7 linked regions of the Homo sapiens genome follow. The protein of the gene in region 7 purifies or fractionates together with the protein of the main gene of each other region. This does not show direct contact. Each region holds a gene or a part of one and is shown on either strand. Other genes may lie near its edges. The genes, in order: CPT1A, GPAT4, COQ8B, TMEM87A, ACSL4, GPAT3 and KCNK1.

Evidence for each region.
Region 1: the proteins of KCNK1 (region 7) and CPT1A purify together in Homo sapiens (affinity purification with mass spectrometry; one large-scale study listed by BioGRID and IntAct). This does not show direct contact.
Region 2: the proteins of KCNK1 (region 7) and GPAT4 purify together in Homo sapiens (affinity purification with mass spectrometry; one large-scale study listed by BioGRID and IntAct). This does not show direct contact.
Region 3: the proteins of KCNK1 (region 7) and COQ8B purify together in Homo sapiens (affinity purification with mass spectrometry; one large-scale study listed by BioGRID and IntAct). This does not show direct contact.
Region 4: the proteins of KCNK1 (region 7) and TMEM87A purify together in Homo sapiens (affinity purification with mass spectrometry; one large-scale study listed by BioGRID and IntAct). This does not show direct contact.
Region 5: the proteins of KCNK1 (region 7) and ACSL4 purify together in Homo sapiens (affinity purification with mass spectrometry; one large-scale study listed by BioGRID and IntAct). This does not show direct contact.
Region 6: the proteins of KCNK1 (region 7) and GPAT3 purify together in Homo sapiens (affinity purification with mass spectrometry; one large-scale study listed by BioGRID and IntAct). This does not show direct contact.

What each region holds. Positions count from the first base shown.
Region 1 is NC_000011.10:68,838,577-68,843,274, forward strand, and holds the start of CPT1A (carnitine O-palmitoyltransferase 1, liver isoform), read right to left. Parts: upstream 3,341-4,698; 5' UTR 3,199-3,340; intron 1,842-3,198; exon of another isoform or gene 976-1,841; intron 1-975. UniProt on the Homo sapiens protein: Catalyzes the transfer of the acyl group of long-chain fatty acid-CoA conjugates onto carnitine, an essential step for the mitochondrial uptake of long-chain fatty acids and their subsequent beta-oxidation in the mitochondrion.
Region 2 is NC_000008.11:41,608,701-41,612,907, reverse strand, and holds part of GPAT4 (glycerol-3-phosphate acyltransferase 4 isoform 1 precursor), read right to left. Parts: intron 3,493-4,207; coding exon 3,423-3,492; intron 3,254-3,422; coding exon 2,953-3,253; intron 2,947-2,952; exon of another isoform or gene 2,287-2,946; intron 2,173-2,286; coding exon 2,098-2,172; intron 1,006-2,097; coding exon 916-1,005; intron 729-915; coding exon 635-728; intron 64-634; coding exon 1-63. UniProt on the Homo sapiens protein: Converts glycerol-3-phosphate to 1-acyl-sn-glycerol-3-phosphate (lysophosphatidic acid or LPA) by incorporating an acyl moiety at the sn-1 position of the glycerol backbone. Active against both saturated and unsaturated long-chain fatty acyl-CoAs.
Region 3 is NC_000019.10:40,703,039-40,707,245, forward strand, and holds part of COQ8B (atypical kinase COQ8B, mitochondrial), read right to left. Parts: intron 2,410-4,207; coding exon 2,287-2,409; intron 2,144-2,286; coding exon 2,058-2,143; intron 818-2,057; coding exon 677-817; intron 585-676; coding exon 503-584; intron 1-502.
Region 4 is NC_000015.10:42,235,028-42,239,234, forward strand, and holds part of TMEM87A (transmembrane protein 87A isoform 1 precursor), read right to left. Parts: intron 2,589-4,207; coding exon 2,405-2,588; intron 1,393-2,404; coding exon 1,293-1,392; intron 1-1,292. UniProt on the Homo sapiens protein: Potential monoatomic ion channel gated by mechanical force, implicated in normal touch sensitivity through the generation of mechanically activated currents.
Region 5 is NC_000023.11:109,680,758-109,684,964, reverse strand, and holds part of ACSL4 (long-chain-fatty-acid--CoA ligase 4), read left to right. Parts: intron 1-1,298; exon of another isoform or gene 1,299-1,478; coding exon of another isoform or gene 1,479-1,601; coding exon 1,602-1,829; intron 1,830-2,068; coding exon 2,069-2,246; intron 2,247-3,589; coding exon 3,590-3,699; intron 3,700-3,828; coding exon 3,829-3,967; intron 3,968-4,207. UniProt on the Homo sapiens protein: Catalyzes the conversion of long-chain fatty acids to their active form acyl-CoA for both synthesis of cellular lipids, and degradation via beta-oxidation. Preferentially activates arachidonate and eicosapentaenoate as substrates.
Region 6 is NC_000004.12:83,584,095-83,588,301, reverse strand, and holds part of GPAT3 (glycerol-3-phosphate acyltransferase 3), read right to left. Parts: intron 1,048-4,207; coding exon 973-1,047; intron 93-972; coding exon 3-92; intron 1-2. UniProt on the Homo sapiens protein: Converts glycerol-3-phosphate to 1-acyl-sn-glycerol-3-phosphate (lysophosphatidic acid or LPA) by incorporating an acyl moiety at the sn-1 position of the glycerol backbone.
Region 7 is NC_000001.11:233,620,136-233,624,342, reverse strand, and holds part of KCNK1 (potassium channel subfamily K member 1), read right to left. Parts: intron 192-4,207; exon of another isoform or gene 124-191; intron 1-123. UniProt on the Homo sapiens protein: Ion channel that contributes to passive transmembrane potassium transport and to the regulation of the resting membrane potential in brain astrocytes, but also in kidney and in other tissues.

The sequences.
Region 1 (4,698 bases), on a different chromosome or scaffold from region 7:
AAAAAAAAAAAAAAACAGAGACAGGGTCTGGCTGTCACCGAGGCTGGAGCGCAGTGGTGCAATCATAGCTCACTGCAGTCTCCACCTCCTGGGCTGAAGCCATCCTCCCACCTCAGCCTCCTGAGTAGCTGGGACCACAGATGCACTCCACCAGGCCCTACTAATTGTTTGTAGAGACAGGGGTCTGGCTCTGTTGCCCAGGTTGGTCTCGAATTCCTGGCCTCAAAGCAATCCTCCCACCTTGGCCTCCCAAAGCATTGAGATTACAGGCGTGAGCCACGGGGCCGGGCCCATCTGTGCCTCTTTAACTTTGCATCGTATGCTTATATCGCTTATTTGTAAAAACAAAACAAAACAAAAGTCTTCACAAGAAAAGCTCAAGACTGGCAGAAGACAAGTGAGGCCTCTTTAAAGTGTGTTGGAGAGATTCTCGAGAGATTCTCTCCAACACACTTTAAACAAACAATCTCGAACAGCCATTTTAATTCTTAAAGCACCAATTCTTCCGGAATTCAAGTTCAGGCTTCCACCAGCAACAGAATTCTGGCCTGCCAATAATAACCATGCAGAGTGACTAAACATTTTTTCCAACAAAGGAAAAAATGCAAACGATCAAAGTGCAGAAGCAGCCCTTGGCCCGCGCAGGCTCCGGTTTCCGCCTCCCGCCGCCGCTGCCACCGCCCCTGCGCCTTTAGATTTCGGGCAGCAAGTTTAATTGCTCGCTTGGAAAGCGTCCTCGGAAGGGCACCGCCAGCAACTGCGGCTTCGCGCCCCGCCCCTTCCCCCAAGCCCCGGGCGGCGTCACGTGACGGCTGAGAAAAGTAGGGGAAAGGTCAGCAGCAGCCCCGCCCCCAGGCTGGCGCGTCCCAGGCGCTCGGATCCTGTTCCACCCGCCGTGCCCACAGAGACCTTCCGGAGCGAGTTGGCGCGCGTCCCTGTGGCCACCCCAGCGACAGCGGGAGAAATGCAACGCACCTCTCCGTGGGAAGGTCGAGCCCTGCGGTGCCCAGCTGTGGGGACAGCTCGGTGCTCAGTGCTTCTGATGACAGATGCTGCATCCAACGAGCCAGAAACGCAGGCACCGCGCTCAAGAGCCCAGGGCGCGTCTAAAAGGGGCTCACTGTGAAGCCTCAGTGAAAACTGACGGTGTTTTTATGAATGAGCACTCGGGGCCAGGGTTGGGTAAGGGCAGGCCCTCGTTCCAGGGCTCCCCGGAGGCCCAACTTGACCGCTCGGTGACCACTGGTCCGGGGCCGGGGCCAAACGCAGCAGCCGCAGCAGTATCGGAAGGGACCCAGTTTAATTCTCTTCCCCTCCAGGGTAGGCGGCTTGTTTTTAGTACCAACTCGAAACGTTATTTTGGCCTGTGCATGATGCCAACTTCTGCCACTTTGAAACAAAGTGTGTGCACTCCCAAACCTGGCCCTTTTTATTGTTTGATTCCAACTGTTAAGATAGGGTTCAAGTGCAAGGTCTAGGCTAGCAATGCTTCACAGGAAGGAAACCAGTAATTTACATGCGAAAAGCAGTCCACAGGCTCTTGGTATTGAGGCAAAACCAATCCAAAGAACCAGCTGCGAATGCTGATAGTCCCCAGACCAACTGACAGCTGGATGTTCGCTGGCCTCAGCGGTGTGCATTCTCAGCGACACTTATGTCCTCAATTTATTGCTACGTTCACTCGGTCAGAGTCGCCTTAAAGAATTTGGAAAGGCCCGGGGGTGGGGGTGCTTCCTGGCATAAATAGAAGACCAGTGCTCAGCCATTTTTTATTCACTTGGTTTGTGGCTTAGAATGAAATAAACATGCTTGCATATCTGGAATGACCAGAAACCGGACACCTGTGGAAGAAAATGGTGTAACAAAATACAACGTTGCAAAAGGTAAAACCGATTTTCATTTTATTCGGTAACTTACAAAGTTACCAGCTTCCTACTAAAATCTGCCCTTAAATATTTTATAACACACGGAGCCGAGAGGAACCGAAAGCCTGTGCCGAGTTGGGAATATTAACTTTGTTATGTATTTAACCTGGTAGGTAGTTGGGATTTTTAACTCTCTGAGTTGTTTTCTTTTTTTAAAGTAAGATCGGCCCTCATCTTTGAGTTCTGCGGCTTTAACGAAAGCCAAGGGCGGATTTACATTATAAAGACGCTGACCCATGGCCTCTCCTGACAAACCGAAAGAAGCCGGCTGTTGGCTGGCCGCGGCGGTGGCTCCGAGAAGGGGCTGCCCCGCGTGGCCCTGACCGCACCGTCGGGCTCGCAGGCCAAGTTCGCCAGGGCACGGCCACGTGACACCCCCACCCTCCCGCGGCCCCGCCGCTCCCAGCCCGGCACGACCTTGGGCACATGCTCCGCGCCCACCCGCCCTTGACCCAGCGCTGCACGGGAGAGGCTGCGGGGCGCTCCCAAGCAGGCACTGGGCCCGGCACCCTCATCCTGCTCACGGCAGCGCTCGGACCGCGCCTGGAGTCCCTGCGCCAAGGGCGTGTCCCGACGGCTGCACCGCGAGGGCGGGCATGGGGAGGGGGACCGGGGAGACGGACGCTGGGATGGGGTCAGCGGCGCCCTGCCGAATCCCGAGGGCCGAGCACCCCTCCCTCAGCCGCACTGCACCTGCCCGTAGGTGACCAACCCACGGGCGGACCCCCAGACCCAATCCTCTCCAGAGCCAGGGTGGGATGGGCAGGGACAGGAGCCGGAGGCCCTACTGGCCCCGGGCGAAGGCATCCTGGAAAGCATCCAGAGCGTCCAGCATCCCTCCCGCGGCCACCCGCAGGCTGACCGACCCCTGGGCAGACCCTCAGACTCAATCCAGTCCAGGGCGGATTAAGGAGTGGGAGACAAGGGAGCCGGTGGCCCCGCTGGCCCCGGGCCGGAGGCGTCCAGCCAAGTCCGGAGGGCCGAGCATCCCTCCCGCGGCCGCACGGGACCCGCCTGCGGATGGACCGACCCCCGGTGGACCCTCAGACCCAATCCCCTGGGGAACATGGGGAGCCCCGGCCTCTTTCTGGGTTCAGGATCTCCACAACCCCGCCGTCCGGGGGGAATACCGGGGTTCCTCTCGGCGCCCCGGTTCCGGCGGCGTCCCCCACCCGGTCCGGTTCCCGGCAGCCCCGCGCCCCGCCCGTCCCCGGCCCCCGCAGCCCGCAGGGCCGCCCCGCCACCCTCCCCACCGCGGGCGACCGGGCCTCACCGAGTCAGCTACGGAGGTGCGGCAGCGGCAGCGGCAGCGGCGGCGGCGGCGGCGGCGGTGGAGTGAACGAGCGGCGAGCGGGAGCCGGGGAAGGAGGGCCGCGGGCGAGGCCGAGCGCACCCGACGCCGGCAGCAGCGGATTGGCTGAGGCGGGTCCGGCTGCGGCGCCTGCAGGCGGGTGACTCCCGGCGCGCGGAGGGCGGGCCCGGGGCCTCGGCGGGGCGGGGCGTCCGCGGGGCTAGGAGGGGAGGGAAACTGAGGCTCGAGCGGGTGCTCGCGTCCTCGACCTCTGCCGGAATGGGGTCTAGGACGAGATTCCTCACCCTCCGAGCCTCAGTTTCCTCATCCGTAAAACGAGCCATCTCGTGGAGGCCGTGCGCATAAAATCGCTTAGCTCCGTGCCTGGCTGATCCTCGCGACTTATCTATCGGCATTGCCCCGTGTAATGCTCCAGGCACCCCCTGATGGTATTCACCCCTGACTCTTTCATGCAGACAAGGGTCGCGGGCCAGGAAATAAGTTACCCCACATCACCGAGCTGAGAAGCAACCGATCCACAGGGAGTGGTGGGGCGCGCCTGTAATCCCAGCTACTCGGGAGGCGGGAAGTCGCTTGAAGCCAGGAGTTCGAGGCCAGCCTGGGCAACGTAGCGAGACCCCGTCTCTAAAAAAAAAAGCGCGGGGAAGTGATAGATCGGACATTGGGTCCAGATCTGATTCCACAGCCCATGCCCCAAATCAGACCTTATACCACGAGTGGCAGTCATCGCGATCCAGAGGCAGCGTGGCTCCTCCTCATCTAGCTAGGATAAAAATGCCTCACTTGGGGGGCTTTGGTGAGATTTACTAAAATAATTCTTCCAGCGTCAAGAACATAATAGGTGCTGGGAGAGGAGTAGCTGGAGGCCAGGGCAGAGCGACCGAGAGACCCTTGTGCTGGAGCTCGGGAGAGGGGCCGGGAGCGGGAACTGAACATCCACCGGTCCCAGGAGTCTAGGGCGAGCGCAGCTGCAGGGGACCCAGGGGGTTGAGGGGGAGGGAGAGGGGCCCCAAGCGTAACAGGAGGGCCAAGGGGGTCTTCCTGACCGGGAGCCACCCCTCCCCTATCTTTGCCCGCAATGCTTCCAGGCGCGAGCTGGCGGCTCTGCATACAGCAGGTGCTCCATAAATGCACCGATGTTATGAACAAAGACTCTTTTAAACCTCTTTTATGAACCCTGCTCTTTTTAAGTTCGACCACTTCTTCTAGTTATGAAAAAATCCATGTTTGCAACCATCCTTCTTTCTGTATCATTTAGTTGTTACCGCAGAAGAATTTAGAAGAGAAAATGAAAGTTCTCCTTTGATCCCGCCCCCCACCACCGCTGCAGTTAACTCTCCCTGCGGTTCCCGGGCTCGCTGTTTTAAAGGAAGGCTAGGATGCAAGCTGTCTGTAAGGCTGTTTTGTTTTCACTTGGCTTACGTCGTAGACAGGTCTCTGCTGGGGGACGGAGATGACCAC
Region 2 (4,207 bases), on a different chromosome or scaffold from region 7:
TGGGCAGGCCTTCACCATGGCTCTCTGAATCACACCCATGAGTCCCCCGTGCACTTGACCCACCTAAGCGCAGGCACAGGACTCATTAGTAGTGAAGCCATCTTCACACGAATCTCCCCACTCTAGGAAGAACCACATCTCACAAAATAAGCAGTCCAACTTCTCACTTCTAACGCTTGCCGGCTGAAGGTTGCTCACTGCCAAGAAACCACTACCAAGACTCCCCAAATCTTAAACTTCTCCTTTTAATCAGTAATACTAGAAATAGGTAATTAAAAACATAACTGAAACCCCTAAGACAAAATACTAAAATACTAAAGTAGCGCAATTCCCTGTGTAAAACTGCCCCTCCCTGGGCAGATTCTCAGATGCCCTGGACACAGTCCTTGCCAGCAACTCCCTCTGCCCCTGCTGGTCTGCCTGACTGCCCTTGGCATCCTCTCCAGCCACACTCACCAATCACTCTGCCCAGGGTATCTCCTATCACAGTCCCACAGAGCCCCCACAGTGACAGTAAGGTGGGGGCCTGGCCCACGCATAAATGTGTTTATGTGAAGGGTCCAGGAGCCTCCTAGCCCTGACCACTCTAAAGCAGGAAGTCTTGCCTCAAGAACGCACCGGAAAGAGCTCTTACCATGGCATAATAGCCATCGCTGGCCAAGATGATCACATCGATCGGTGAGGTATGATTGGCCACACAGATGCCACCATTTCTTGGTCTGTTTTCCCTGGGTTTAAAATGTATGCAAAGCAACCAAAATTAGTGTGAAACAGTTCATGTAACACACCTCTCACCTCACATGCTTCATCTGCTCTAACTAAAAGCTCAGAAGTGTCTTCCCATTTGGCTAAGTATAGGTGGGTGGTGTTTCCTGCAGCGCCATCTCCCTTCCTATCAATACAAAGCGCTCTCACCTGTCATGGTAGGTGATGATGGCTGTCAGCGCTCGCACGCAGATCCGGTAACACATTAAGTGAACATGTTTACTCATGAACTCCTTAAACCTGCAATAACAGGACAAGGATTCTGGGTTTTATTTTACATACAGGAAGACAGAAAGAGTTACTGACTTCAACAGCTCAGCAGTCCTTTATAACAGCAAAGTGCTTGTATAGACATCAGCACCTACAGGAAAGTCCTGTGATGCATGAGCACCTTTATGTTCACACATGAGGAGAGAAAGAGGGGACAGGGAGACTCACTTACATCCACCCAAATCAGTGGGTGGAGAATTCACAGCCTAGAATCCGGCATCCGCAGACCACAGGCGGGCTGAACTCCGTTCCCCCAGTCAACATCCAGAGGCAGGTCCAAGGCCAGAGGCCAACCTCCTCACCCGCCCAGGCAGAAGAAAGGTTTCTAAACCCCAGAACTTCCCAAAGGGAGCAAAATATTCTTCACACAAACAGACAAAACCTCCCTACATTTCAAACCATTTTAAAAACTGTATTGTCTCATCACTTTATCCACACAGTCAAATGCTCAAAACTAAACAACAAGCTGTAAAATCTGTTAACATCTGAGTCTCGGACTCTACATGTCTGTGGCTCCTCCCTTTTGTCTTCAAAATGGGAAGAATGTGAGGGCTGAAGGACAAAAAGAACAGTCATAGATCAAAATTTAAAAAAAGTAAAGACTTTACTGCTGATGCCGTTGTTGCCATTGGGTTGTTATTATTATTTGAGATGGAGTCTCGCTCTGTTGCCTAGGCTGGAGTGCAGTGGTGTGATGTTGGCTCACTGCAACCTCTGCCCCCTGGATTCAAGGATTCTCCTGCCTCAGCTTCCCAAGTAGCTGGGATTACAGGCACCCGCCACCGTGCCTGGCTAACTTTTGTATTTTTAGTAGAGACAGGTTTCGCCATGCTGGCCAGGCTGGTCTCAAACTCCTGACCTCAGGTGATCCACCCACCTCAGCCTCCCAAAGTGCTGGGATTACAGGCATGAGCCACCGTGCCTGGCCACCACTGGGTTATTTAATCCATCTAAGATTCCATGGCTTTGGTTGTGTCCAAAGAAGTGTCCTTGCCTTCGATATCTGAGCACCATTCCCAGAACTAACTGTCCTTCAGGCATGGACTGCCACACTCTACTCACCTCCCATTTGGCAAGTATCCCACCACAGTTGTGCCCACCACCAGAAGGCTAATCCCTGTGAAAGCCAGTGCTATCCTGTAAGAAGAAGAAAAGTTAGAGCACAGCCAGCAAATCATTCTACCAAGTACAGAACTGAAGGTGTGAAAATCAAAGGGGGCATCACAAAAACCACCCCCAAGACCTGCTCACCTGGGACCTGGACCAGAGTTCACCTAGAAATGTAAGCAGGCCTATCAGAACCAGAGATCCTTTTGATTCCAGCTGACAGTGAGCCATGGGTCTGGCTCTCAGCTGCCTGCATCTCCTGAGGCCTCAGGCAGCTGGAAGGCTGGAAAACCCTAAGCTGGCCATTCTGCCACAGGGCTGCTCCCTGCTGCCCTCCCCTTCCCTTTGGCTGGAAACCCCGGTGGAAGCACAGCTTCCCTCTGAAGCAACAGGAGGTGGAGCTTGAAGGTATTAGCATCTGGCAAGGCACACTCAGAGCAGCACATGGTGCAGAGAAGCTGAAAGATCAATACTGCCCCTGTACCTGAGAGGCAAGCTTCAGGAAAGAATGAGCCATGTCCAGGAAGGAGTGGCAGAAAGCACACAATGTTCCCTGTCCCTGTGTTTGCTGTCATCTAGAGAAGCAAGCTGTCTTTAAGAAATCCAACTATTTCTGTCTGATATGCAGAGAATCCAAGGGCCTCTAAAGGAGAATCACCAGTGTATCCCTCCAAAGAGTCACGTGGCCTGGCTAACGACAGTCATTCCCTCCTCCTTTCTAAAACGGGAATACACAGCAGAGCAGGCAGGTGGGCTGTGCACCACGTGGGGTGGCAGCAGCGAGCCCCACTCCCGCAGGCCCTGCCTCACCTGAGCGGCAGCAGAAAGCAGTACCGAATCAGCACTCCTAACCCCCACAGGACCGTGAGCCGAAGGCTGATGTACTGGAAGTTATAATTGGTTCTGCTCAGCAGGTTCCAGGACTCCAGTTCTTCTGCTGAGAATCTCTTTGTCACCTCATCATCCATAATGGTCTCCATTCCTTTCCGGCAAAAGTAGAAAATGTCAGAGAGCTCGAACTCTGGAGTGTTGTCCAGAGCCTTACTACTACCACTTCGACGAATCTCTTTGATCTCTTCTTCTAGTGAAGTGGGATCCTTTGCAATGATTCCTGCAAAAGAATGTGTCCCTGTCAAGCAGCACGCTGGGGGAGAGCACGTGAGACATACTCAGAGCACACATCCTGCACTAATGCAGGGAAGAGCGTGTGTGGCACCAGAAGCACTGGGGAACACTGTTCAAATGGACCTCTCAGGACAAGGATCACACCCCCATCTTACCGTTGGTGTAGGGCTTGTAAAGCTGGTGGTTCTTCTCCTTGGCTCCTCGCTCCATTCTCAAGGTAGCCCACTGGGAGGGGAAGGAAGCAAGATACAAGAGCAAGAATGAGACCTGTTTTCAATCAGTGAACACCTCCATCTCTATTCTGTGAAAGCCTCAGTCCCAGTCACCTAAGACCGTAGCCAAGAAGCACATAGTCTAGAAGGAAACTCAAACCACCTCTCCCCAGAGCAGCCCCTTCCTTGACAACTGGGACCAAGAGTTAAGTCACCTATAGCAAAACACTGGGAACTTCAAGAAGCTGGGGCGAGTTCCTCAGGCCTAGTTCCTCACTGCCTACGTCTCTCTGTCTCCGGGCTGTAGGGAGCTCACTTGCTGACAGCACAGACCTCACGATTCCTCCTGCACTGCCGCACGGCAGCTACTCAAAACAGCGAAGCCAGGTATCCTGTAAACTACTGCCTGCCACCAAATTACTCCAAGAAAGCAGCAATTTTCATTTTAAAGGAGACAAAGAGCTTAAGTAATACATATGTTTGGACTGTCCAGTAACAGGAGTAACATTTTAATGGGAGAATCCCACAACTTAACACTGAAAGGCCTGGGAGTGGCTTAATAGTGTTAAAGGAAAAAAAGAACACTATTAGGAGACCGAAAAAAAAAAACCCAGATTCAATTCCCAAGTTTACATTCACTAGCTGCGTTCATTAAGCAACCCATTCCAAGTCTCTGAATCTTGGTCTCTTTATCTGCAAAACAGGATTGATACTACCTCAAACTCCTA
Region 3 (4,207 bases), on a different chromosome or scaffold from region 7:
TGCACCCCAGTCCCTGGCAGCTCTTTCAGAGTCACGCCTGCCTCTATTCTGTCTCCTTTTCATACTGACTCTCACGTTGCTCACTGCATCTGAATCTCACTTCTGGGCCTGGCTTTCCCTCTCCCTCTCCGTCTCTTACACAAACACAACCCACCCTCCTTTCTCTAGGCGCCTCCTCACGTGCCATCCCCAGGACTGTCCTTTTCTGCTCTGCCGCACCTACAATCCCGCTCCCTGCATGCACACCCTCTGAGAGTCTGCTGCTGTATCTTGGCCCTGGGCTCCCGTCTCTCTAAGGCTCTGTTAAAATCCATAAGGCTTTTCCCACACCTGCTCATGCTCCCTGGGCTCTCCCCGCCTTGGTGTCCTTTCTGTCTCTGACACTCCCGCTCACAACGCCAGCACACCCTGCCCGTGCTCTCCTCTGGGCTCCCCCTCCTGCTTTCTCTCTCTGGGCATAGCCCCTTTGGGAGGTCAGCAGAGGAGTGGGTGGGCGCCTCACCCGCGGGCAGGGCCGCGCTCATCTTGAGTACCGCCAGCAGGTTCTGGACATCGCTCTGAATGCTCTGGGCTATGCCGGGGTACTGTAAAGGGAGAAGGGAGGGAGAGAAGGTGGGAGTCACTTCTCTGGGCTAGCAGGGTGCCCGCCCCTACCCTGCCCAGCCTCCCCTCTCACCTGGATCTTCACGGCCACCTCCGTCCCGTCCCTCAGCAGGCCCTGGTGCACCTGCCCAATTGAGGCAGCGGCAAAGGGCACCTCCTCCAAGGAGGCCACCTTGGCCTGCCAGTCCCTGCCGAGCTCCTCTTCAAGAACTCTCTGCGGGGAGTGGTCACAGCCATCATCATTGTGGCAGAGTTCATTCCCCAGGCTGAGTGCTTTACGTGTTGATAACCCCAGCACTCACCACATGCAGGGCCCTGGGCTAAGCTCTTGGCTGCCACCCCCTTTGCAGATGAGGAAACTGAGGCTCAGAGAGAGCTCCCTTGTGCAAGTGACTAGCCAGGCACTGGCAGACTGTGAGGCTCAGCCTAGCCTGTGTCCCCTGAACCTGGACTCCCTGGGCTGTTGTGGGGATTGCTATTATTTATAGTTAAGACTCATAACAATCCTTTTTTTTTTTTTTTTTTTGAGACAGGGTCTTGTTCTGTAGCCCAGGCTGGAGTGTAGTGGCACTCTCACGGCTCACTGCAGCATCAACCTCCCGAGCTCAAGCCATCCTCCTGCCTCCTGAATAGCTGGGACTACAGATATGTGCCACTGTGCCCAGCTAATTATTACTGTTATTATGTTTAGTAGAGACAAGGTCTCACTATGTTGCCCAGGGTGGTCTGGAAGTCCTGAGCTCAAATGATCCTCCCACCGCAGCCTCCCAAAGTGCTGGGATTACAGGCATGAGCCATTACACGTGGCCAACCATCCTTTATTATGCTCTTATATGTTATTATTAACTCACAGTTACTGTGATCAAGAAGAGCTAAAATTTACAATGGGCTTCCTGTGGGCCAGGTCCTATTCAGAGTGGCCCAGAGAGAGGCAGTACCTGCCTGGGGCCGCATGGCGAATAAGCAGAACAGGGATGGGAGAGCAGGTGGGTGGCGGAATCCTGGATTCCATGCCTTACCCAGTTATTAGAACAGCTCATGTCCTGGGCACTTACTTGGTGCCAGGCGCCGTGCCAACCTATTACAGACACGATCTCCTTTAATTAAAAAAACAGTAATAATCACAGCTAACACCTGCATGTTGCTCACAGTGAATCAGGGGCCGTTCTCAGTGCTCAGTGTAAACTGATTTATGTGACCCTATGATGTGGGTGTGGCTGTCACTATCGCCATTTCCCAGGGAAGGGAACTGAAGCACAGAGAGGTCAGGCTGCTGTTCCCTGTTTTAATCACCACAGCAATGCTAGGAGGTGTGTACTCTGGTGATTCCCATTTTACAGATGGGGAAAGTGAGGCTCAGAGGCAGGGAGTGGGGCAGTGAAGCCAGGAAGGTCAGGCAGGTCAGAGGAGATGGAGCCTGCCTCCCTCACCGCCCTCCCCCACTGGGCACTCACCAGCATCTGCCAGCGGGGCATGAAGTCGGCGCTCTGGCGGACCCGCTCAAAGATGTGCTGCAGCTGAGGGCTGATGAAGCTGTTGTCTTGGGAGACAGTGGAACCAGGGGGGAAGTAAGCGAAGAGGTGAGGAGGGACCCCGTGTGAGTATCTGAAGTTGGGGCCTGTTGGTGGGTAGGGCTGGGGTAGAAGGGAGGTCAGGGGTCAGGAGTCGAGGGTCATGCTGTACCCTGGATGCTGAGCATCTGGCCAACCTTGAGGGCGGCCCCTCGAACTGTACATAAGGTCTGCACAATCCGCTCGGCATTGGCCTCCGACAGGAAGGGGCTGGAGTCCAGCCCAGAACCACCCTCTGGGGAGAGAACAACCATTAGAATTATAACCACAAATATCATCACTGCGGCCAGGCCCGGCGGCCCACGCCTGTAATCCCAGCACTTTGGGAGACCCAGGCGGGATGAACACAGGAGTCTGAGACCAGTCTGGGCAACAGTGACATCCTTTCTCTATTAAAAAAAATATATATCATCTGCACACCAACAGGAATGGCTAAAACGAAATACGGAGGCCAGGCTTGTTGGCTCGCGCCTATAATCCCAACACTGGGAGGTCAATGCAGGAGGATGGCTTGAGTCAAGGAGTTCCAGACCAGCCTGGATAACAAAGCAAGACCCTGTCTCTAATTAGCTGGGTGTATGGTGGCATGTGCCTGTAGTCCCAGCTACTCAGGAGGCTGAGGCAGGAGGATTGCTTGAGCCCTGGAGGTTGAGGCTGCAATGAACTGTGATCGCACCATTGCACTCCAGCCTGGGCAACCAAGCAATACCCTGTCTCGGGAAAAAAAAAAAAAAAAGAAAAGAAAGAAAGAAAAATAAACATAAGTTAAAACAAATTGCAGGAGAGTCAAAGAGTAACTACTACAGTATTGAATAGATGAGCTATCACTACACACAACAGCCCAGGTGGGTCTCAAAAATGTAATGCTGAGTGAAAGCAGCCGGGTGCATGAAATCATCACCCAGTTACACTGATATAAAGAGCAAAACAAGGCCAAACAAATCCAGGGTCCAGGAGCCAAGACAGAGGTCACCCTTGGTGAGGGGAGTGACCAGGTGGGGACATGAGAAGGGCAACGATTCTCGAAATGTGGGCCAGGGACCCCTGAGGGTCCCTGAGACCATTCAGAGGGGTCTGAGAGATCAAACTATTTTTATCGTAACATTAAGATGTTATTTTCCCCTTTCTGCTCTCATGCGTCTAAGAACATTCACTGGAGTTCTCCAGAGGCTCCAGGACATGTGAGGACACCATCAGACTGACAGCTGATGGAATGTGTACGTGTGTACTCTTGTGTTTTAAAAATATCTCTGTATTTTTGTTGTGTTTTTGAGACAGTGTCTCACTCTATCACCCAGGCTGGAGTGCAGCGGCACAATCATGGCTCACTGCAACCTCCTGGGCCCAAGTGATCCTCCTGCCTTAACCTCCTGAGTAGCTGGGACTACAGGTATGCACCACCATGCTTGGCTAATATTTTTACTTTCTGTAAAAATGGGGCCTCGCTATGTCACTCAGACTGGTCTCAAATTCCTGACCTCAAGGGATCCTCCCGCCCCAGCTTCCCAAAGTGTTGGGATTACAGGCGTAAGCCACCGCACCTGGCCTAAAAATTTCTCAGTTTTAATTTCTAATATGGTAGACATTGATAACTATAATCCACATAAATAAGCTCTTTGGAGGCTCATTCTAACAGTTTTATTGAGAAATAATTCACATACTGTTATAATTCACCATTTAAGTTATATAATTCAATGATTATTAGTATATTCACAGAGTTGTGCAAGCATCACCAGAATCAATTTTAGGACAGTTACACCACGCAAAAAAGAAACCTGGCTGGGAGTGCTGGCTCATGCCTGTAATCCCAGCACTTTGGGACGTCGGGGCGGGATCACTTGAGTTCATGAGTTTGAGACCAGCCTGGGCAATATGGTAAAACCCTGTTTCTACAAAAAATACAAAAATTAGCTGGGCATGGTGGTGCATGCCTATAGTCCCAGCTACTCAGGAGGCTGAGGCAGGAAGATCACTTGGACCCAGGAGGTAGAGGTTACAGTGAGCCGTGATCCCGCCACCGCACTCCAGCCTGG
Region 4 (4,207 bases), on a different chromosome or scaffold from region 7:
GACTTTATTTATTTATTTATTTAACTTTGGAGATGGAGTCTCGTTCTGTTACCCAGGCTAGAGTGCAGTGGCATGATCTTGGCTCACTGCAATCTCCGCCTCCAGGGTTCAAGCGATTCTCTTGCCTCAGCCTTCCAAGTAGCTGGGACTACAGGTGCATGCCACCACAGCCGGCTAATTTTTTGTATTTTAGCAGACACAGGGTTTCACTGTGTTGTCCAGGCTGGTCTTGAACTCCTGACCTCAGGCAATCTGCCCGCCTTGGCCTCCCAAAGTGTGAGGATTATGGCGTAAGCCACCACGCCTGGCCTTCATGACTTTAAATAATATCTTTATCTTCATGACTCCCAAACTTTTATCTCTGCCCCAACCTCTCCCCTTTGTTTCCCCTACTTAGTTATCTAATTCAACTCCAATCTTGCCCCTGCTCCACACTTATTTCACCTAAGGTCTTCCTGAACTCAGTAAATCTTCAATTCCATCCTGCCATTTTATCAGATCAAAACAATTGGCATCATCCTTAATTCCTCTTCTCTTTCCTATCATACATCTGATCCATCAGCAAATTCCACTGGTTCCACCTTCAAAATATATATAGAATCTGATCTCAATTCAGCATCTCTTCCCTTGGGTATACATATAGCTCCCTCACCTCCTTGAAGTCTCTGCTTAAATGTCATTAAGTGAAGCCCTCCTTGATCACCCTATGTACAACTGCAAGCTCTAGCTCCTGCATTACCTGCTCCACTGCACTTTCCACTGACATATTAAAATATTTTACCCACTTAAATTTTGTCTTTGTCCCCTCCCTCCACAAATGTAAGCTCAAAATCTTCTGTTTACTTGCCATATCCCCAGGGCCTAGAACAATGCCTCAAAGAATGCCTATAGAAGACACTCCTCAATAAAAATAAAATTTTTTGGATAGAAAAATATTTTCAGACAGTTACAGCAAGAATGCGTTTCCCATAAAAAATCTAATTTGCAAAAAATATTTTGGAAGTATGGAAATATATTCGGAAGTATGGAATACATTTGGATTTGGAAGTATGGAATACATTTGGACTTGGAAGTATGGAATATATTTGGAAGTATGGAATATATTTGGAAGTATGGAAAATGAAACACATTTTCCCAACATTTACAATGCTACAAAATTTCAAATACCTTTCTTGTTTCAGAATTATTTCTTTTATCAACTATTTCAGAACTACTACATTGGGAACATGCAATACTGTTTTAATTTAATCAGCATTTTAATTTGCTCTTCCATACAGGAAGTTAATACTTACTTGACGATGCCATATCCCAGACTGACTATGATGACCAGGGTTCGAGCCAGTGAGCGTTTCACTGCTGAAAGCAGCTCTGCAAGGATCAAAGCACCCTGGACTATGAAAAAGAAGGGAAGAAATGGCACCATAATCTAGGTTTGGCAACAGGCCAGATGCCAATACTAGACTGCTGCTTTCTACACTCTTCAGAATAAGCATTGATATTAGTCCTGCTAAAATAGAATACCTCTTCCACAGTTTTTACAGGATACAAGCTGATGCCACTCACAATCTTACTCATGTCTATGTATGGCAATCTGGGTGCGCTCAACTCAGCTCCCTCCCCGACCTGGCCCCAAATTCACTAAAACTTTAACAGAATACCTCACCCTATATGGACAGTTTGTAGCATCGAGACAATTTCCCCCATTTTTAAAAACTGTGAAATACAGCTACACATAGAAAAGCACAAAACACACTCGTGTACACGCTTGTTGGCATGTACAGCTTAACTTTTTTCAGATCTACTATTTTCAAGACCTTTCAAAGACCAGGGAAAATCTTATCAGTTTATCTCACAATAATAATTATGACTAAATTAAATGGTCTGACAAGAAAAAACTGAAGCAATCACAAAAAACTACAGTATAAAACAACTTCTGTCATTACCAGTTCACCTTACTAAACCATAAGCACTCTCCTATTTTCTTGATATGACTATATTTTATCAGTTAGATGCACTTTCCCACCACATTTTGAGGTTTTTTAAATCAAGGTGTGTCTTACAATCAGTGACATTTTACAATTAAATTGACAGCTTTACTTTTTTTCTTAGATGTATAATGGTGCCTTAGAAATCAACAGAAATTGAGATTTGATGTTAATAATCATTCCCAAAATGGTCACTACTGTTGTGACTTTTGTGAGCATATTTCAGTAAAATTAGTCTTACATCACTGAACTCATAAGATTAAAAACAAAAGTCAGAGTCATAGTGATTCTGCTTAAGATATTGTAATAATTAAGTAATTGAAAAGTTAAGCCTATGTAGTGACTGCTGACCTTAGGAATATTTTCATACATCTCACCTTCCAACCACTCGAACTGGCAAAGATTTTCTGGTTACTTACCAGATTCTCCTTTGTATCGGATATTCTGAAATTCCGCATAGAAGACAGCTTTCTCAAGCATTCCCAGGAAGATGACAGCACCAATCCAAAACTGAATTCTCAGGAGATCTCTCCAGTAGCAGGCAGACCATGCCAGCCACAGAACACCAAACAGGACATATACAATACACATCACCATGAAAAACTGTTATCAAATTGGGTAAAAGATAAAAAGGAGAATTAGGGCCAAGAGCCAAGTCTGTAGATTTAGAATCAATATATACTTTTTTTTTTTTTTTAAGAGATGGGGATTTGCTATGTTGCCTAGGATGGTCTTGAACTTCTGGACTCAAGCAATCCTCCCATCTCTGCCTCCCAAAGTGTTGGGATTACAGGCATAAGCCACAGCGCCTGTCCTGAATCAATATACAGTCTTAACAAGTTACAAAAATATATTCTACCTTCTAGTTAAGAAATAATTCTTCCTTTGGAGCTTAACATTAACTAATATGAAAGCATTATCTTGTCTTGAGCAGAGAAGACTACATATGAACTTGTCCTCAAGAGCGAATGCTCTCATATGTATATATATATATGTGTGTGTGTGTGTGTGTGTGTGTGTGTGTATGTATGTATCACATATGTATACCATATAAAAGGTGCTCTCTATTATACACACAGACACATATATGGTATATATAGAGAGCACTCAGCCTGCTCTCCTATAGTAAAAGAGCTTTTTCTGGTCAGGCGTGGTAATTCACACCTGCAATAGTGCTTTGGGAAGCCGAGGCAGGAGGACTGCTTGAGGTCATGAGTTCAAGGCCAGTCTAGGCAACATAGCAAGACTCTGTCCCTACAAAAAATAAAAATTAGGCCAGGCATGGTGGCTCATGCCTGTAATACCAGCAATTTGGGAGGCAGAGATGGGCAGATTACTTGAGGTCAGGAGTTCAAGACCAGCCTGGCCAAAACATGGTGAAACCCCGTCTCTACTAAAAATACAAAAATTAGCCAGGCATGGTGGTGCGCACCTGTAGTCCCAGCTACTCAGGAGGCTGAGGCAGGAGAATCGCTTGAACCCAGGAGCTGGAGGTTGCATTGAGCCAAGATCGTGCCATTCCACTCCAGTCTGGGTGACAGAGTGAGACTACGTTTCAAGATAAAAAATAATAAAATAAAATAAAAATTAGCCAGGCATAGTGGCACACGCCTGTTGTCCTAGCTGCTTGGGAGGCTGAGGTGGAGGGTAGCTTCAGCCTGGAGTTTAAGGCTGCAGTGAGCCATTATCCATTATCATGCCACTGCACTCCAGCCTGGGAGACAGAGTGAGACTCTCTTTTTTTTTTTTTTTTTTTAAAGAAGGAGCTATTTCAGCTCACGATCTAAAATTATATAGATGAAGACAACACTGAAGAAGAAAAATGGCATGATGATTAGGATACATCTAGAGGCAAGGAAACACAACAAAACGGGAAAACTATTAAAGGGAAAGGAAGAAGAGAATAATCATGAACAAAGAAAATTGAAAATATATTAAGGATATTCTGAGACACAGACGTATGCACACATACATGTATGTGCACACATACACACATACACACACAAAATGAAGAGAAGGGAGCTTCATCATTTTGTTAATTTTTTGTTGTTGAGACAGTTTCACTCTGTCGCCCAGGCTGGAGTGCAGTGGCAAGATCTCAGCTCACAGAAGCCTCTGTCTCCTGGGTTCAAGCAATTCTGCTTTAGCCTCCCGAGTAGCTGGGACTACAGGCGCCTACCACCACGCCCAGCTAATTTTTGTATTTTTAGTAGAGATGGGGT
Region 5 (4,207 bases), on a different chromosome or scaffold from region 7:
TTGTTAGATTTTGTAACTACCGTAGCGTATTTAGTCAAGCGTATTTAGCGTATTTAGTGTATGCTGTGCCCCAGTCAGACTAGTGTCCTTGCTATTGGTACTTCCTATTCTCCCAAAGTCCTTTCATTCCCACCTTCGTATCTTTTTTCATATGGTCCCTGAGCCTGGAATACCTTCCATTCCTCTTTCATTTCTAGATGCCCAACATAAGGTCCAGCTTAAATCTAATCTCCACAAAGCCTCTCCTAGTTACTCTTGGCCATTTTGCACTTCCTCTGAACTCCTTTTGCATTTATTGCTTATACTACTGCCTACACTGCACATGGTAGTTATGTATTAGTTATGTATTACCACAAGGCTTTTCAGTGGAAATGCTTTAGTGGTCACCTTGGGAGTTGGGATTCCGGGAATTCTGGGGCAGGACTCTGGACATCCCCAAACCCTGTTTTGGCCAGAGCAACTCCACTTTAGTGTTATATATGGGCAGTTTCCAGTAGTGTTTATTAGAAGAGATGGTTTAATTGCACCCCCTGTCCCCGTTCCCCCAAACAGTTGCAAAAATACTGGATCTATCTTGTGTGATAGTTGACTCATAAGTGTTAACTTATAATGGCCAAGGGCCAGGAATTAATACTACTTCAGACTTGTATTACCACTCCTAGGCAACTGGTGCAGTTTTGAGCACAAAGTGGACATGTAGGAAATGATTTTACAATTGTATTGCTCCCATGTGGGAAATAGTAGATAGTAAATAGCATTACCTGAGAAATTTACCTTAATGAAGAACTCAGAATAAGGTTTCTGGGTTGACCTTTGAGAAATAAATCTAAGTTGATAGTTTCTGCCCCACCCCCCCCTTTGGATATAAACCTAACACTATTTAAAGATGTCTAGTTTACATGCACATGTTTAAGAGAAATCTTATTATTGGCATACCCTATTCTACCAAAGTTTTGACAAACTTAAATATCATATTCATGCATTTGTGTAAGCATTAAGGTTGTTATTCAACTCACAGAATGATATGCAGAGTACCAGTACACCTAGAAACCTAGAAAAAAATAAATTCAGAAGTTGATGTGCTCAAAGACATTTACGTCAATAATGATTACAAATGGAAAATGCCAGCCTTTCAGACCAGTTATTTCAGCTTTCTGTAATTAATTGTGTAAACTAATAAAGACCTGAGTATTTAAATCAATTGTGCTATCAACTTGTTAATATTCTTTTGTTTTTGTTTTTTGTTTTTTGTTTTTATTTTTCCTGCTCTCTGCTTGGTTCATTGTCATCACCTACAGGCGTACTTTATTGTCGGCTTCCAAAGATTACTAACTTTTATCTGTATCACTAAGATTGAACTGCCTTGGCTGTACTGCTATTCTTACTGCTGCTTCTATTATTGCCTTCTTCAGCACAATAAGGCTTTCAAAAGCCAAAGAATAACAAGAAATAAGCACCATTTTAGAAGCCTTTCCACTATGAAACTTAAGCTAAATGTGCTCACCATTATTTTGCTGCCTGTCCACTTGTTAATAACAATATACAGTGCCCTTATATTTATTCCATGGTATTTTCTTACCAATGCCAAGAAGAAAAACGCTATGGCAAAGAGAATAAAAGCTAAGCCCACTTCAGACAAACCTGGAAGTCCATATCGCTCTGTCACACACTTCGACTCACTAGCTGTAATAGACATCCCTGGAGCAGATACTCTGGATAAATTATTTGACCATGCTGTATCCAAGTTTGGGAAGAAGGACAGCCTTGGGACCAGGGAAATCCTAAGTGAAGAAAATGAAATGCAGCCAAATGGAAAAGTTTTTAAGAAGGTAAAGTATTTTGGTGCTTTTCATTTATGTTTTAAAGAGGAAGACACATTTGTTTTATCATAAATCGAGTGCGTTTTAAGTATGCTGGCATTCTATTATAGTGCTGTGTAAAACTACTCAGAAGCCGCTCATAGCTTCTGTATGTTCATTTAAGAGCATTTTTAGAGTTTTATGCTTTGGATAGTATTTTAATTGCTTGTTTGAATATACTAATATTAGAGAATGTATCACTTTAACAGTTAATTCTTGGGAATTATAAATGGATGAACTATCTTGAAGTGAATCGCAGAGTGAATAACTTTGGTAGTGGACTCACTGCACTGGGACTAAAACCAAAGAACACCATTGCCATCTTCTGTGAGACCAGGGCCGAATGGATGATTGCAGCACAGACCTGCTTTAAGTACAACTTTCCTCGTAAGTGCCTTGTGTTTTTGGAGGGGGGAGAGGAGGGTCTTTGCTTGCATGTGAGAATTGTTTTGAGATGCTCTTGTTTTCACAGTAGGTGTTGTTTAGCCATTTTACACATTAATTATGTCCATAATACGGCATGTAATATTGTGGCTAAAAGATATCCGATGACTCCTGTTAAGTATGGTAACTTGTAAGAACTAATATGGGAATTGGCAGCTTTAAGGGATGTGATTTACACTTTTATTTTCCAATTGGAAATGAATTGTAACTGAAAGAGTTGGAGTTTGGGGGTATTTTGGGGGGGTGATATACAAAGAGTAATGATTAAAAGAACAAAAAACCATTTCTCAGGATAATTCAAATTCATTGCTTCACTTTGAGACCTCTTATTTGACTTATTCTATTTTACGTGTGAAATATGCATGTGACAGCTGGAATTGGCATTAGATATGTTAGAAAGTAAAATTGAGTATATTTCTAATACTCAAGCATTTGTTGTTGCCATTGTTTAAGAAATAAACAATGTATTGTCACATACTAAGTACTCTGTTGTTTGTTGAATGAAATATAACACTGTAAGTTAGGATTATAGAGCTTAAATTTCAAACAAAAAATAGATAATATGAAAATGATCCCCTATGTACCCATTACCCACTTTCAACGATGAACAGCTTGTGAAAGTGGCTATTTTTAACCACATTGTTTCTGGTTACCAATCTAGAGCTGAATTTTCAGTTCTTTCTAAGTTTAGCAGATGTCCTTTGATTCTAACTGATCTTGGTTTATGTTATCTCTGGTGGCTCCTAAGGAGTAGATCTCCTTGATCTCTCTAATTAAGGTGTGGAGGTCACCAATCACATTGGACATTGGACTCACTAAAACAGCTTCTTAGAAGGAGTAAGAACATTATCTGTGGCTGATCTTATGACTTAAGATCCTCAAGATTTTCAAGGACTTATCCATTCTTTGGAGGCTATGGCCAATGAAAGTGTGTATCAAGAAGAAGCCCTAGCTGGGCCAGTCTGACCTGAATTAAGAGTTCAGCCAGTACCTATTGGCCTTGAGCATCTAAATTGACAGATTTTTGATCAGCTGTGGCAGTGCGAGTGTTTCTGGGTTTCTTCAGGTTTAGGAAGTGAGAGTTCTGGGAATTTGTAAGGAAAACTTTGGGCTCCCAGGGAGTTTGAAGCAAGGTTGAAGGATGGTAACAGAGACTATGAAATCAAATTAAAATATACAATGTCTTTGTGTCTCTAAGTGTAACTATTATTAAAGACTGACTTCAATAATATCCATTTCTAATAGATGTTTATTACTTAATATTTGTGTTTATTTTTATTATGTAGTTGTGACTTTATATGCCACACTTGGCAAAGAAGCAGTAGTTCATGGGCTAAATGAATCTGAGGCTTCCTATCTGATTACCAGTGTTGAACTTCTGGAAAGTAAACTTAAGGTAAATATGAAATTTTCTTTTAATTCATGGTTGCGTTGTCTGGCAGGACAGAAAAATATTCATTCAGTAAGTGAATTTTTGTTGCAGGCTTAAGTTTAATAGCTGTTTTTTTTTCTTTCTGCTCAACAGACTGCATTGTTAGATATCAGTTGTGTTAAACATATCATTTATGTGGACAATAAGGCTATCAATAAAGCAGAGTACCCTGAAGGATTTGAGATTCACAGCATGCAATCAGTAGAAGAGTTGGGATCTAACCCAGAAAACTGTAAGTAAAGCAGTAAAAACAATTTTATTTACCTATTCCAAGTTTGTTATTTTGGTAGGTTAGGGAAACAAATGACATGAGTAAATCCACAAAAGTTCTTTGACTGAAAAAAAAAAGTTCAAAAATCTTTAAAAACCATCAAGACCATATATGATTAAGATTTTCCCTCCATTTCTCCTCAAAAAAAATAAGTTAGTAAATTTCACTAAGTGGTTGAGATGTAATCTGTGGTTCAGACTT
Region 6 (4,207 bases), on a different chromosome or scaffold from region 7:
ACTTGTTATGATAATGAATGGTACCAGAGAGGGCTCGCACACAGATCCGGCAGCAAGTCAGATGGACCAGTTCACTCAGCCAGTTTTTGAGGCTGAAGGAAATAGAAACATTTTATTGTGCCATTCTGGGCACTCTTAAGAAACAATATAATAAAGGTTTTAATGTGCTTTTTCACAACAGCATACCACATTCTATTCTGGTGAACAGGTACAGTTCAATTCTTATAGTCTTATAGTCAATTGTTATAGTCTCATTGGCACATTTAGTATTAGATCACAAAAGTCTACCAAAAAAACTGGACATAACTCTAATGAAAAGTGGCTCAAAACCACTAGGCTATTATGACAAATTCCTGAACGAGATAAAGTGAAGCTTCTTTGGTCTTGGTCTTATGAGCTTGCCAATATATAAGACTCTCTTAGGTAACTCAGTTCATTTTCTTTCTTCAATTCTCCTTTGAAAAAACAACTTCTTTCAATTAATATGGAAGTATGATTTAAAAAAATCAAAGACTATGAAGATGAAGTGAGCAGGATTCTAATAAATGAGTAGAGAACATAAATTTAATGCAATGCAGCCTGGTGTGGTAGCTCACACCTGTAATCCCAGCACTTTGGGAGGCCAAGGAAAGCAAATCACAAGGTCAGGAGTTCGAGACCCCCCTGGCCTACATGGTGAAACCCCGTCTCTACTAAAAATACAAAGAATTAGCTGGGCATGGTGGTGGGTGACTGTAATCCCAGCTACTCAGGAGGCTGAGGCAGGAGAATCTCTTGAACCCAGGAGGCGGAGGTTGCAGTGAGCCAAGATCACACCATTGCACTCCAGCCCAGGTGACAGTACGAGACTCCGTCTCAAAAATAATAATAATAATAATGCAATACATAGGAATCAAACAAATATTCTCTTTGTGGACACAGCTAAGAAAAAAGACAGTCCTATATATGGCTGGATGGAAGGAAACATTTCACCTGCTGTCTGGCAGCTGCCCAACCAGTGTAGTTCCTATAACCAGCAAACTGATCCCAATGAAAGCCAAGGTAACCCTGAAAAAGAAAAGAGAGGGCCATATAAGATTTTGACACATAGCATGGAAGTAACCAAAAAGTTCCTAAATAATAAAATTGTAAATAAGTTGTAGAGTATCCACATGATGAAATATGATGCAGCCACTAAAATAACTGGGTAAATCTATATAGATCTAACACGGAAGAATGTTCCACGACACACTTTAAGAGGCAAAAAGCAAAGTAAGTTTCAGAATAAAGTACAGAATATGATGCCATCTGCAAAACAACAACAAACACATGTGTAACAAGTCTGTATATGCATAGAGAAGGCCTGGAAATTTTCACAAAACTATCAAGTTAAATCTATATAATCACCAAAGGGTTAAGAGGGCTAGTGAAGGGAATAGATTTAAAGGTGCTTTCATAATAAGAACACCAAAATATACCACCATGTAGACATCTTTTAATGCAAATCTAACTGTTGTCCTTTTGCATGGTTCAAGATAACTCAGAAGTTAGCAAACAAGGTGACTGACAGTACCTCTAACCTCCATATAGACATTGCCTTCTTTTTGAAAAGTGCTTTTAATATACATTCCAATGACTTCAAAAGGAAAGTAGTAATTTCTAGAAATGTAAATAGAATTATTCAAAAAGGAAAGTTAAGACAAAATCTTTCAAAATAAATAGGATTTAGTTAATAGAGAAGAAAAATCAATAGTTTAATCACATTTTACTAATAAGATTCTTTAAATCATCTTACTTTGTCAAATGGAGAAAGCAGAAACTTTAGATTATCTCATTACTCTCTCAAATCAAACCAGAGGCCTATTTATGTCTTCCTGTTCCCAGAAGAGCACACACGTGTTGCTGAATGCGTGAGGTATTCAATAAGCAGACTGAAGGGGACCACCCCTGCAGTATCAGAAGGACCCTGTGTGTCTGGGGAAGCTACAGTGGTTGCCTAAGGTTAAGGGTCAGGAACAGTAACCCTCTCCAGGGTGAAGCTCATTTACTGCTGACACGTAGCTATCTTTACTTTCTGATCAGATATTTGGAGCATAAAATCGTTTGTCTTAACCAATCCCAGGTTTCACATTAGATGATGATGAAGCAACACCTAACACTATACACCACGCAATATTCTAAGTACCTTTTATATTTAACACATTTAATCATCCCCAAGACTCTATGAGGCAATAATATTATCATTATCCCCATTCTACACATGAAAAAATTGGAGCATAGAAAGGCTAACTAACTCACCCAAAGTTACACAGAAAATAAGCAACCGAGCCAGGATTTGAACCCAGGGCTCCAGAATTCATTTTCATAAGCATTATGTTATTCTGTCTTTCAGGAGATTATGATTTAACATAGCAGTTTAGCATTATTTAAAACAAGAGAAATAAGCAGTGTCTCACGGCTACAATCCCAGCAGTTTGGGAGGCCCAGGCGAGTGGATCACTTGAGGTGGGGAGTTCGAGACCAGCCTGGCCAACATGGTGAAACCCTGTCTCTATTAAAAATACAAAAATTAGGAAGGCATGGTGACACATCCCTGTAACGAGAACCGCTTGAACCCAGGAGGCAGGGGTTGGTTGCAGTGAGCCAAGATTGTGCCACTACACTTCAGCCTGGGCAACAAAGTGAGACTGTCTCAAAAAAAAAAAAAGAAACAGCGTAAAAGGCAGCAATCTTAACCCATTTGGAGAAACACTCCATCAATAACACATCTGAACATGCAGCCCAATGTGTTTAAGAATAATGTGCATATTCTGTACTGATATAATGTACATTATAAAACATCTGGAAACGTAAAAAAAAGTATAAATATTTTTATTTAAAAATACAGTATTTTGAAATTATATTAATGTTGCAATTTGTCCTCACTCAAAATAGGATAATAAAGTAATACATTAATATATATTATTAATTTTATAATTATAACTATCAATTTTATAATTATAACTTAATAACATGATATATTACTATAACTAATAAATATAATTAATACTATTACAATTTTGAGCAAGAAGAAAGCTTTTTGAACATGCTTTCCTATAAATACCTTGATAAATAAGGTGTTAAATTTTGTTAAAGACTTGACATAGCAATTTGAAGGTCAGGTTCTTTTTTCTTGTCAGTTACTGATGCAATAACTAAATTATTGTTTAATCTCATCATCAATTATGCAAAACTTTTAAAATAATGTTTTGCCATCTTGCCCCAATGAGAATCACTTGTTCCCATCCATTAAATCAGAAGGAGTTTCATTTTAACATGTTTAACAATTGGGTTCAAAACTACTGAAACTTTTTATTTGCTAGATTAACAGGCCAGAACATTATGTATCCCAGTTTAAGTGAGGCAATGTTAGAGTTCTCATAGATGACATAAGTTTTCAGCCACAGTCTGTTTTTTAAGAGCTTTATTGACATACAATTCACATGCCATACAATTCAACCCATTAAAATGTGTAATTCAGTTCAGGCACTGGCTCACGCCTGTAATCCCAGCACTTTGGGAAGCCAAGGCAGGCGGATCACTTCAGGTCAGGAGTTTGAGACCAGCCTGGCCAACATGGTGAAACCCCATCTCTATTAAAAATACAAAAATTAGCCAGGCATGGAGGCACATGCCTGTAATTCCAGCTACTCGAGAGGCTGAGGCATAAGAATCGCTTGAACTCAGCGGGCAGAGGTTGCAGTGACCCAAGATTGTGTCTAAGTGATGGAGTGAGACTCTATCTCATCATAAAAATAAATAAATAAAATAAAGTATGCAATTCAGTAGTTTCTGTCATATTCACAGAGTTGTGCAACCATCACCACATTGTATCTTAATACAATCTGGTTTTTGAAAAGCTCATTTTGTAGTAGGTGCTTCTTTTAAAAAGCATTTACAAAGCAGTTCTTCCACACTGAAGAGTATCCACTAAGAGTAGGAGTCTGAACTCTGCATTTTCTTTTTGTTCTTGGATGCTTATATCACTGCACTTGATCTTAGCCCAAAGGCCAAGAAGTAATAAATGTTTACATTGCTTTATTATCTTAAATCATAGTTTCTTTGCAAAAATATTTTAAGTCACTTATCTATTTTGTGAGCATTTGTTTAGTAGATAAGGGAATCATAACAGCATTTTCTGGGCCCCCACAGCATGGTGAAAGCTAACCAACAACAAACAAGGGCATCT
Region 7 (4,207 bases):
GAAAAGAACCTGCTTCTCAGTAGCCCCAAGTCCTGTGTGTGCCTGGCTCAGCGCATCCTGGGGAGCACACTTTCCTGGGATAGGGCACTTCTGCCGCCTCCCTCCTCAGTGCATACTTCCACCAAAGACTCTTCAGACTCTATTCAGACGAAATGATGAAACCATTGTCTAAATAAGCCCCAAGAGGCTTCAGTGAAGCAGAGTGAATAGGGAACTGGGGCATCGACTTGAGTAAATAGCTTAACTCAGGTCACAGAGCCCCCCACATAACAAGAGATGACCGTAAACAACTGGAGCCTCCAACTCCAACTCTATTGATCATACTCAGAGAAATGAAACCTAACATGTTTTACTCTCTCTAAATCCCTTAGAAACATTCTACCTGCTTTTGTTTTGTTTTTTGACTTGAATAGTTTCAGGTTTACTTTCTTTTTTTTAAAGAAAGCTTTTTTGGCAAGGTGCGGTGGCTCACGCTACCTGTAATCCCAGCACTTTGGGAGGCTGAGGTGGATCACCTGAGGCCAGGAGTTCAAGACCAGCATGGCAACCAACATGGCAAAACCCTGTCCCTACTAAAAATACAAAAGTTAGCCGGGCATGGTGGCATGCGCCTGTGGTCCCAGTTACTCAGGAGGCTGAGGCAGGAGAATCACTCGAACCTGGGAGGTGGAGGTTGCAGCGATCTGAGATCACGCCACTGCACTCCAGCCTGGGTGACAGAGCGAGACTCCGTCTCAATAACAAAAAACAAAAGGTTTCTTTCTTCTTTTTAAAACTGACACGTAATAATTTTACGTATTTATGAGGTACACAGTGATACCTCAATACACATAATGTACAGTGATCACATCAGGGTAATTACCATATCCATCATCTCAAATGTTTATCATTTCTTTGTGTTGGGAACATTTAATACCTTTCTTTTAGTGACTTGAAACTATATATTACTGTTAACTATAGTCATTCTACAGTGGTATAGACAACCAGAACTTATTCCTCCTATCTAGCTGTAATTTTGTATCCTGTAACAAATCTCTCCCCATCCCCCCTCCCCGTACCCTTCCCAGATGCTAGTATGCTCCATTTACTTTTCACTTCTATAAAGCCAACCTTTTTTTTTTCTTGCTAACCATTTCCATTTGTTTTCATTATCTTCCATTGTTTCTTTTTGAAAAGATAATCCCAGAAGTTAGTGCATTAGAAAAACTGTTTGAGATTAACTTTTTTTAGCTTCCACATATGGGTGAGAAAATGTTGTATTTAACACTCTGTGCCTGGCTTTCTGTCCTCTGAATGCATCAGCCATGATTTCACCGACTCTCTCTGAGTTCCCTGAGAGCTTTCTGCCTAAAGCCCTTCCATGGGTACTAATAACTGAGTCTCAGAGGCAGCAGCGGGCAGGCTTTTATTTCACAAAGTTGGTCAATCCCAGTCAGAGGAGCTAATGCAAAAAGTTAGACTCTGATCTGGGATCAAGCAGACGGTAGCAAATTAAAAACACTCCCATGTCTAACCTAAGCAAATTAATCTCATCAATATAACAATCAGCTGTTTTCCAAATTAAAGAAGGCAAACATGAAAACCAGTAGAAAGTCACAGATAAGCCCTTCTGATCTGACTCAAGTTCAAGGAGACAATCCCACAGTCCTTTCAGGTGCACAAACTCTACATCTCCAACTCCCTATTCTCTTTCTTCCTCCATTCAGCCTCAGATCGGGGGCATCACCTTGCAATATGCTGCTGACAGAGAGTGGGCCACCAACTTTGGGGATTGAACAAAAAATAAGGGATCCATGCAAAAGAAACAAAGAAAGTCAGAGTACAGACTGAGTCTAGGAGATAGAAGTATCACAGGAGTCAATAAAACACCTCAAAAGTTGCTTGCTTTCCAATAAAGTGACAACCTTTATCTCCTGCCTTGAATAAGCCACCTGGGCATGACACAGTCAATGGAGAACTTCAGCACCTTAGTATTTCACGGATTTGTCAATAATACAATTGGAAGATGTCTTTGGAGAATAAAAGCCAGCAGGTGCAACTCTGAGTATGTCAGAGTATATGAGGCAGATGAGATTTCTGTCCCTGAAACCAACCTTGTAGTAAACTGAACCTTCTGGAATTGCCATTTTTATGGGTCAAAACAATTGAGTGTCGGCAATTCACATGCTCCAAAGACAATAGACACTCACACACAGCAACAGTCCAATGAGCAATGTCATAAAACAACTTGTTCTCAAAGCACCGGAGTTCCCAATAGGTTACTGCTTCAATCAAAGATTCTGTTCTTGATAGGACTTACAGTTATGTCATAAAAGAAGAGACATCATTTCTTCCAAGTTATTGATAATAGTAGCAGTATCTTCCGGGGGCTATAAAATGACAGTCACACACAGTAACACTCCAATGAGCAATGTCATAAAATAGCTTGTTCTGAGAGCACCAGAGTTCCCTTAGGATACTGGTTCAATCAAAGATTCTGTCCTTGATAGGACTCACAGTTATGTCATAAAAGGAAAGACATCATTTCTTCCACGTTATTGATAATAGTAGCAGTATCTTCCAGGGGCTATAAAATAGGCATAGATAATAACAAATTTATAGTTAAAAAAAAACCCCAAACCTTCAAAATACTAAAAACTGGTATGTTTTATAGACAGGTATGAGTTCACAGATTTAAACACTAAGAATCTCTTCTCTTTGACCATTATTGGGTGGAAATGTTTCTAGAATTTATTATACACTTCCCTGCCTTCTTAAGTAGAAACATGTTGAGATATTTTTCTTGATGATTCAAGGACGTGGATTACTATATTGCGCTCTAAAACAATGACATCCCATTCAGGTATATAAAATTGTTCGTTGCAAGACTAAAGACTTAAAAGATTCTGTCTCTTGTCCTCCACTATTTGTATGGGTTTTGTGCAACTAAATAAAAACTATCATGTACCTCTATATTAGTTTGCTAGGGCTGCCTTAACAAAATATCACCAGTGGGTGGCTTAAACAACAGAAATTTATTTTCTCAAAGTTCTGGAGGCTTCAAGTTCAAGATCAATGTGTCTGCAAGCTTCATTTCTTCTGAGGCCTCTCTTGGCTTGCAGATGGCCACCTTCTCACTGTGGCCTCATTTTATCTTAATCACCTCCTTAAAGATGTTATCTATAAATACAGTCACATTTTGAAATACTGAGGGTAGAACTTCGACATAAGAACTTGAGGGAGACGATTTGGCCCATAACAAGGTCTGATGCCCAGATGCTATTAAAGCTCAGGTTCTTAGACATAACTGCATTCAAATTAAGACCATGTCACTTCCGGCTTTGGGACCTAAGTAGAGAAGTTGTTCAACCTATTAATTTCCGTTTCATCCTCTGTAAAGTGAAGACAATGATACCTATATCTCATCAGTTTATTGCAATGCATGGAAATGAATATGTGTAAACATTGCCTGGCACATATAAAGGGTTCAATAAAGATGTTATTTTAAAATAAAATTTTAGTTTGGAATTTTTTAACTATTTATCTTTTTATAACCTGCCATGTCTATTTCCCCATAGCTGTGCCTTTCCCTCTGTAATTTCTTATATTATAGGCTTGAAAACCAGATAATTAAAACTTCTAGAATTAAATGTAAAGGCTCAAAATCAAGACCTGTGAATACAGAGCACAAACATCAGAATATGGGATTTTGGATCTCTCTTCTGGCTAATACAGAGTTTGCTTGTTTAATTTTATGTAAATTCTATAGTAGATATAATTTAGTATTTATTGCACATTTTAGATAAGATAATCACAATGTGAAGTGTAGACTGTCATCATTAAAGGAAAAAAAAAGCAGTGACACAAATTGGATCACAAGTAAGTGGCATCTGAAATAAACATTTGTTTTGAAAGTGGTTGGTGGTGATACATAATTTATTCAATGTTGCATACCACTTAGAACAACAGCACAAAGAAGTCTGAGAAGCTGAACTTTCTTACACAAAGTTTCCCAGAAGAAAGTGAAATATTCAGAATACTCTTAGCGTACCTTTCAAGTATCATTCTGAAGCAGATGTCAGCAAACTTTTTTTGTGAGACAGTAAATATTTTAGGTTTTGTGGCCACATGGTTTCTGTTCAACTATTCAACTCTGCCACCTTAGCCGCTAAGCAGTCATAAATGATACAGAAGCAAACAGGTGTGGCTGCACACCAATAAAACTGTG